2 linked regions of the Homo sapiens genome follow. The protein of the gene in region 1 interacts with the protein of each later gene in a biochemical or structural test. Each region holds a gene or a part of one and is shown on either strand. Other genes may lie near its edges. The genes, in order: CREB3L3 and CREB1.

Region 1 (3,821 bases):
ACAGCTCACTGCAGCCTTGACCTCCTGGGCTCAAGCGATCCTTCCACCTCAGCCTCCCGAGTAGCTGGGACCACAGGCATGTGCCACCATGCCAGGCTAATTTTTGTATTTTTTGTATAGATGGGGTTTCACCATGTTGCCCAGGCTGGTCTCAAACTCCTGAGCTCAAGCGATCTGCCTGCCTTGGCCTCCCAAAGTGCTGGGATTACAGGTGTGAACCACCACACTCAGCCAGTTTTAGCTTTTAGTTGTTGTTGCTATTGTTACTACTAAGTACTACAGAGGAAGACACCCCAGCCCAGGCGACAGTGAGCCCAGGACTGGAATGGTCTCTAACTGTGGGCAAATTCCACGCCTTTCTGTGACTCAGTTTTCCAGTCTCTGAAACGGGGATATTTAGGCTCCTCGAACCCGAGCAGCCCTCCCAGCTCCAACGCCCCATGGGAGGGTGTGGGGGTGCTCACCAGGTCCCCACTGCTGCCCGAAAGGAGGAGGTCTTTCACGGTGAGATTGCATCGTGGGGACAGGTCCACCGGATCAGCCGGCTTCTCAGCACAGATCCTTCCTCCTGGGCTCCACATTTCTGACCAGGGCAGGTGGGGACGGAGACAGGGAGAGTGTCAGACGGGGGGAGTCCTGAGCTTCCAGCCTCTAACCGCCTCCTCCACCAAGTCTCCCATGATTAATCCCAACATTCATATGACTTCTGCCAGAGTTTGGAGTCCCCAAGGCCTGAGTTGAAGGGGGCAGCCCTCACTAGTGACTCGGTCTCCCCTCTGCTATAAGATGGGAACCCAGCCAGTCATGGTGGCTCACGCCTGTATTCCCAGCACTTTGGGAGGCCAAGGCAGGCGGATCATCTGAGGTTAGGAGTTCAAGACCAGCCTGGCCAACATGGTGAAATCCCATCTCTATTAAAAATACAAAAATTAGCCGGGCCTGGTGGCGTGCACCTGTAATCCCAGCTGCTCGGGAGGCTGAGGCAGGAGAATCACTTGAACCCGGGTGGTGGACGTTACAGTGAGCTGAGAATGTGGCACTGCCCTCCAGCCTGGGTGACACAGCGAGACTCCATCTCAAAAAAAAAAAAAAGATGGGGACCCAAATTCAACAGGGCTTGGTTCTGTCCGTCCCACAAGGCTGAGGAAGACACAGGACATTGTCAGGAGACACCGGCTGATTCAAAAGGGAGTGGCTGTTATCACACAGAATTACAGGCTAGATTTGCAGCCAGCCAGGCGTTATCTCACCCAAGGGGCAGGGACGAGGTCTGATTCACCTCTGGTTGTCCCCTCCTGGTAGCCGGCATGCAGTAGGCATGCTGTCCCAGCACACAAACTTTGGGTCAGGTAACCCTTGGTTCTAATCCTGGTTGGGCAGGGCTGTGTGACCTTGAGTAAGTGACTTCACCTCTCTGAGCCTCAGATTTTTTTTTTTTTTTTTTTTTGAGACGGAGTCTCGCTCTGTCGCCAGGCTGGAGAGCAGTGTGGCAATCTTGGCTCACCGCAACCTCCACCTCCCAGGTTCAAGAGATTCTCCTGCCTTAGCCTCCCGAGTAGCTGAGACTACAGGCGCCTGCCACCACACCCAGCTAATTTTTGTATTTTTAGTAGAGACAGAGGTTTCACCATGTTGGCCAGGATGGTCTCGATCTCTTGACCTCGTGATCCGCTCGCTTCGGCCTCCCAAAGTGCTGGGATTACAGGCGTGAACCACTGTGCCCAGCATTTTTTGTTTTTGGCTTTTTTTCGAGACAGAGTCTGGCTCTGTCAGCCAGGATGGAGTGCAGTGGCATGATCTCAGCTCACTGCAACCTCCGCCTCCCGGGTTCAGGTGATTCTCCTGCCTCAGGCTCCTGAGTAGCTGGGACTACAGGTGGCCCCCACCATGCCCGGCTAATTTTGTATTTTTAGTAGAGATGGGGTTTCACCATGTTGGCCAGGCTGGTCTTGAAGTCCTAACCTCAAGTGATCCGCCTGCCTCAGCCTCCCAAAGTGCTGGGATTACAGGCATGAGTCACCGCTCCGGGCCTGAGCCTCAGTTTTGTCAACTCTCCAATGGGACCAAGAAGAGCTCATAGCAAGGGTCAAGGGACAAAGGCCACCCAGAGGCCAAGTATCTCCAGCCAGGGCTCTGCCTGGCCCGCCGGGAATGCTTAATCAATAGAGTAAATCATTACTGATCTGCTGTTCCCCACGTCTAGGAGGAGCACCCTGGAACCTAGGACCTGGTAACCTCATGCACTTTTATTGAGCATCTACAGGCTGGGTGGAGCGGCTCACACCTGTAATCTCAGCACTTTGGGAGGCTGAGGTGGGCAGATCACCTGAGCTCAGGAGTTCAAGACCAGCCTGGCCAACATGGTGAAACCTCGTCTCTACTAAAAAATAAATATTAGCTGGGCATGGTGGCATATGCTTGTGATCCCAGCTACTCAGGAGGCTGAGGCAGGTGAATTGCTTGAACCTGGAAGGCAGAGGTTGCAGTGAGCCGAGATCGCGCCACTTTACTCCAGCCTGGGTGACAGAGTGAAACTCTGTCTCAAAAAATAAAAATAAATAAAAAATAAAAAAAAATCTACTAGGAACCAGGCACGGGGTACAGACACGTAGAAGGCAAGACCCTGACTTTGGGCTGTGCTTGTCAGCACCATGCCTGGTGCCTGAGCCACCTGCCGGGGTTGCATCCTAGCTCTGTGGTTTTAGCTCATTGCTCAACCTGACAGGACTGTTTCACGATCTGGAAAATGGGCTCCCAATAGCATCCACGTGAAAGCATGGAAACACCTAGCCAAGGGAGACACGTGTCCTGAGTTTGAGTCTGGGCCCAGCTCCAAATTGCTGTGTGACCTTGGACAAGATGCCAGCCCTCTCTGGGCCTCCATTTCCTCACTTACAGGAAGGGCCCTGGAACAAGGTGAGGGCGGTGGGCAGAGACACAGCAGGACTCACCCAGGTCTATGGTCACAGAGGCTTCAGGTACTTGGATCACTGGCCCTGGGGTTGTGGTGGAGCAAGAGTTGCCAGGATGATAGGAGAGGCAGGGCCCCTTGCCAGGCTGGGCAGGATGGCAGCCGGCGGGGGAGGTGGCTGGTCCGCTGCGTGGAGGGGTGTCCTGGGGGTCGGAGGGGAGGTCTTCGGAGATGCCACTATCACTGCCTTCGGGGGACCAGAGTGGGGAGCTGGGCAGTGAGTCTCCAGAGCCCAGGATGGAGCTGAGGAAGTCGTCAGAGTCGGGGTTTGGCAGGACCTGCTGGGGTGGACAGGGAGGGGTAGTAGGAATTAGGAAGTGCTCACTCTTTTTAGATTAGTGTGTGGCCCCAGGGAAACCAGTGACCCTCTTTGGGCCTTAGGTGTCCTTCCCTTCTCCAAGATGAGTTACTGCTTCTTCCTCCCGGGGCTGCTGAGGCTCAAACGCAGTAACATAGCATAAAAATCCCAGCCAGTGCCAGGTGCAGTGGCTCCTGCCTGTAATCCCAGCACTTTGGGAGGCCGAGGAGGGCGAATCACTTGAGGTCAGGAGTTCGAGATCCGCCTGGCCAACATGATGAAACCCCATTTCTTCTAAAAATACAAAAAGTAGCTGGGCGTGGTGGCGGGCATCTGTAGTCCCAGCTACTCGGGAGTCTGAGGAAGGAGATTCTGAACCCGTAAGACGGAGGCTGCAGTGAGCCGAGATCACGCCACCGCACTCCACCCTAGGCAACAGAGCAAGACTCCATCTCAAAAAAAAAAAAAAAAGAAAAAAAGAAAAACAAAAGAGCCAGGCACGGTGGCTCAGGCCTGTAATCCCAGCACTTTGGGAGGCCAAGGCGGGCAGAT
Region 2 (3,821 bases), on another chromosome or scaffold:
ATGCTAAAATAAAAGAAAGGATCACAGAGTGGAACCTCTTCAGAACCAAATAACTTCAGAAGGAATTTAACATTTTTCCACTTAAAAAAATTGTTAACAGGCATTATTATTATAAATTAGAATGCAGTTCATAGAGTGCATTTCTATTGTAGAAGTTGAATATGGGTTTCCTGAGGAGCAAGTTACTTGAATATATTAGACCCTTCTTGGTGATGTTATTTGCTGTAACTTCTCCTAGATTATTTTACAAATTATTCTACATTGGATGTAATGTTTTAAAAGTCTTATATGGTATTAAACTTGTAACAATAAAATCCATTGGCTTTTAGTTGCCATTACCCAGGGAGGAGCAATACAGCTGGCTAACAATGGTACCGATGGGGTACAGGGCCTGCAAACATTAACCATGACCAATGCAGCAGCCACTCAGCCGGGTACTACCATTCTACAGTATGCACAGACCACTGATGGACAGCAGATCTTAGTGCCCAGCAACCAAGTTGTTGTTCAAGGTAAGGGAATTCAGAATTCACAGGTGTGGTAAATTCTTCAAAATACTAAAATTTTATAAACTCACAGAAAAAGTAAGTATCATATTGCAAACCACCATTCAAATGTAGTTAACATTTCTTCAATATTGATAGTATTTTTCATGAACTCTTCCATTATTCCAATTGGACCAAAATGTCATGGCATAAAAACAACTATTTTCAGTTTTTAAAATATTGCATCTACCTTTAACATCTTTTGGGGTAGAAGAAACAGGATAGGTTAGAAGGAAAGACCAGGAAATCAGGAGTTAGAAAAGATGGATTCTGTATCTAACTGCATGGATCTGCTATGAGGCCTTGAGTAAAAGTCAGCTGCTCTGAGCCTCAGGAAAGTGTTTTGTTTTTTGTTGTTGTTGTTTTTGTTTTTTCATCTGTAAAATAAGAGTTGCACTGAATCTCTGGAAACAATCTTCAGAAGTTCAGGATTCTGTTTCTCTGCTTCCCCCCCCCCCCCCAAAAGAAATTTAAATCTTCTGAGATCATCAGTTTTTATTATTATTATTATTATTTTTTTCTAGAGACATGGTCTCACTGTGTTGCCCAGGCTAGTCTTGAACTCCGGGCCTCAAGCAATCCTCCTTTCTCAGGCTCCCAAAGTGTTGGGATGCCTCTGCACTTGACTCAGTTTTTGTTTCAAATGAAAACATTATATTCCACAGGATCTTATACCAATATGCAAATCTGCTGCTCTTTAGAGAAAAAGTAGTTGTTAAATTCTCGACAAATTATAGAAGTTGCTTTTTTTGGCTTTTTTTTTTTTTTTTTTAGTTTTTTTTTTCTGTTTATTTCAGGAATCTTTATGGATAGCAGTTAACCATTTTTCTTTGGATTTGTTTGAATATTTCAAGAATATAGTTAATGCCAGGTTAGAAATTTGCTGATTGAGGAAATAATAATAAATTTGTTTCTGAAAATATTTTTATAAATAATAATGCATTTTGCCTGTGTTAGGTAATGACAGTTGTATCCTTTCACCATGGATAATTGAATAATCCTGAAACACCAACTGGAGAGAGTCATAACTTATTTAAAGAGCCCTAATGTTTACAGAATATATTCTGTTATTAAACGAGTATTTGAAAAAGATACTATTTTGCTTATTGATGAGAGTAAAACACCTTTTCACTTTACATGCAGGTACTCAAAAATTGTAAAGCAGGATGTCAGTGAATTTGAATTCTGAACGTCAGTTTGAAGATGGTAACATGTTTAGTATATAAATCTTTTCCACTCAAACCATACATTTTAATTGATATTAATAATTAATATGAATAATTTTATAAAGACCTTCAAATTTTTTTAAGTAACATTAGGTTCCTTATTAGGAGAGCATATTATTACGCTGTTTTTAGAAGCAGTTTGACAAATAGTGATTGTGTTTGTTTTTACAAATGGTGAATCAGTTAGAAAAATAAAACTTCAGTTTATTTAGCCATTATCATTTACATTAAAACAATATGTTTTTCAAATAATATAATTGGCATCAAGTGATACACTTTTTCATACTTTTAGTTTTGTTTTAATTCAAAATTTATAATAGTTGACCATAATGCTTTATCTTCTTTTTCATTTTGCTATTTTATGAAAAATCATGGTCGTTTTTATGTCGTGGCAAGAGTCTACTTGAAATTTTTTAATATGAATTTACCAATATCAAAGGAAGACACTGAGGACTATACTCTATCTAGGAAGATCATCCAAGCTGTGCCCCACTTACCTTTTAGACTTAAGGTTGGTAAGCATGTTAACAACAGAATAGAACTGCATTCAAATGAAAAATAAAATGTAAGATCCAGCGGACATAGGTTACTGTAATAAATACATTACATTGGGAATTATTTCTTAGTAGTGGCGCGAAGAGTGCTGATTCTTTCAACGCTTTAGCCAGAATCATCTTTTCTTTTTTGTTTCCCTTTTAGTCCAAAATACATGCTTAGATTGATGATTGATACACATAATTGAATCAAGTTGCAATGTTTCTGTCTTACACCATGCTCACTGTTTTTTTCAGCTGCCTCTGGAGACGTACAAACATACCAGATTCGCACAGCACCCACTAGCACTATTGCCCCTGGAGTTGTTATGGCATCCTCCCCAGCACTTCCTACACAGCCTGCTGAAGAAGCAGCACGAAAGAGAGAGGTCCGTCTAATGAAGAACAGGTACAAATACTGCATTTACTTAGATTGTTATGTGTTAAGTGTGTCTTCACATTCTGCTGGATGTGTATCTTTACATCTACTGGTAATAGGATCTTTGCATTGAATTTTTTTTTTCCAGCAGAATTAATGGATCTTGCTAAATTTTCTTTATTTAATAAGCTGCACTTATAAGATAGCTGTATGATTATGGGTCAATCTTTGATCGTGGAGTAGTTTTCTTTCATGCAGTTTCCCCACAGGAGATTTAATGCACAACTTCCCTATGTCTGCACTCCAACCAGTTAGCCAGGTTATTTAAAAATGGTTTCTTTTCATGTATAGTATTGTTCAAGAAGATCAAGAGTTTCATATATGTATATTAACTGTGTGTTAAATTTTATCTATATTAAATTTACTTGATATAAAGTAAATGTATGGTGGCCAGTTCATGTTTTAATGAATAATATCTTTACTCAAAATAATAACATTTTAACACCTAAAGATTCTTCAAAAATATGTTAATTCTAAGAATACCATGTTACGGACAAAAATCTTAAAATATAGTCTTCAAAAAAATACTACATTCAAAATCTGTGAAATGTTGGTAAAGCAATTCTCAGAAAGTAACTTTATTGCTGTAAATGATTTTGCCGTCAAAAACAATAAAAATAAGTTACTAAATATTGGTTTAGAACTTTCATATAGAAGTGACCGAGACAAACAAAAGAAAATGAAAATAAGGTTATGTAAAGGTTTAAAAAGTTTGAAATTAGTGAAAGTATCTCACTGTTCATCCCAGGATACTTCAAACACTGATAAAGTGAAAGAAGCAGGGCTTCCAAGTCCTAGCCCTATCCCTCCATTTTGGGAGAAGGTATTAACCTTCTGTACCTCAGTTTTGTAAAATGGGATTCCAGCACACACCCAAAGTATTGTTGTAAGAGTCAAGTAAGAGAATCCTTTGAAAGCACTTTGTAACTGTAGTGCTCTGTTGAAATGGGTTTGTGTGTGTGTGTGCAATTTCACAGCTCAGATCAGCTTTTTTGTTCCTAAAATATTCTTAGCTGTCACAATGTTAGTAAATTATATCTAAACTCTGAGAAATGGCAGAGATTTTTCTGGGATATTA

The links.
Region 2: the proteins of CREB3L3 (region 1) and CREB1 interact in a test that uses a peptide from one of them, tested with the Homo sapiens proteins (one large-scale study listed by IntAct).

The regions. Positions count from the first base shown.
Region 1 is NC_000019.10:4,156,426-4,160,246, reverse strand, and holds part of CREB3L3 (cyclic AMP-responsive element-binding protein 3-like protein 3), read right to left. Parts: intron 3,253-3,821; coding exon 2,952-3,252; intron 584-2,951; coding exon 465-583; intron 1-464. UniProt on the Homo sapiens protein: Transcription factor that may act during endoplasmic reticulum stress by activating unfolded protein response target genes. Activated in response to cAMP stimulation. In vitro, binds to the cAMP response element (CRE) and box-B element.
Region 2 is NC_000002.12:207,574,943-207,578,763, forward strand, and holds part of CREB1 (cyclic AMP-responsive element-binding protein 1), read left to right. Parts: intron 1-329; coding exon 330-512; intron 513-1,688; coding exon of another isoform or gene 1,689-1,705; exon of another isoform or gene 1,706-1,711; coding exon of another isoform or gene 1,712-1,751; exon of another isoform or gene 1,752-1,983; intron 1,984-2,167; exon of another isoform or gene 2,168-2,282; intron 2,283-2,562; coding exon 2,563-2,713; intron 2,714-3,821.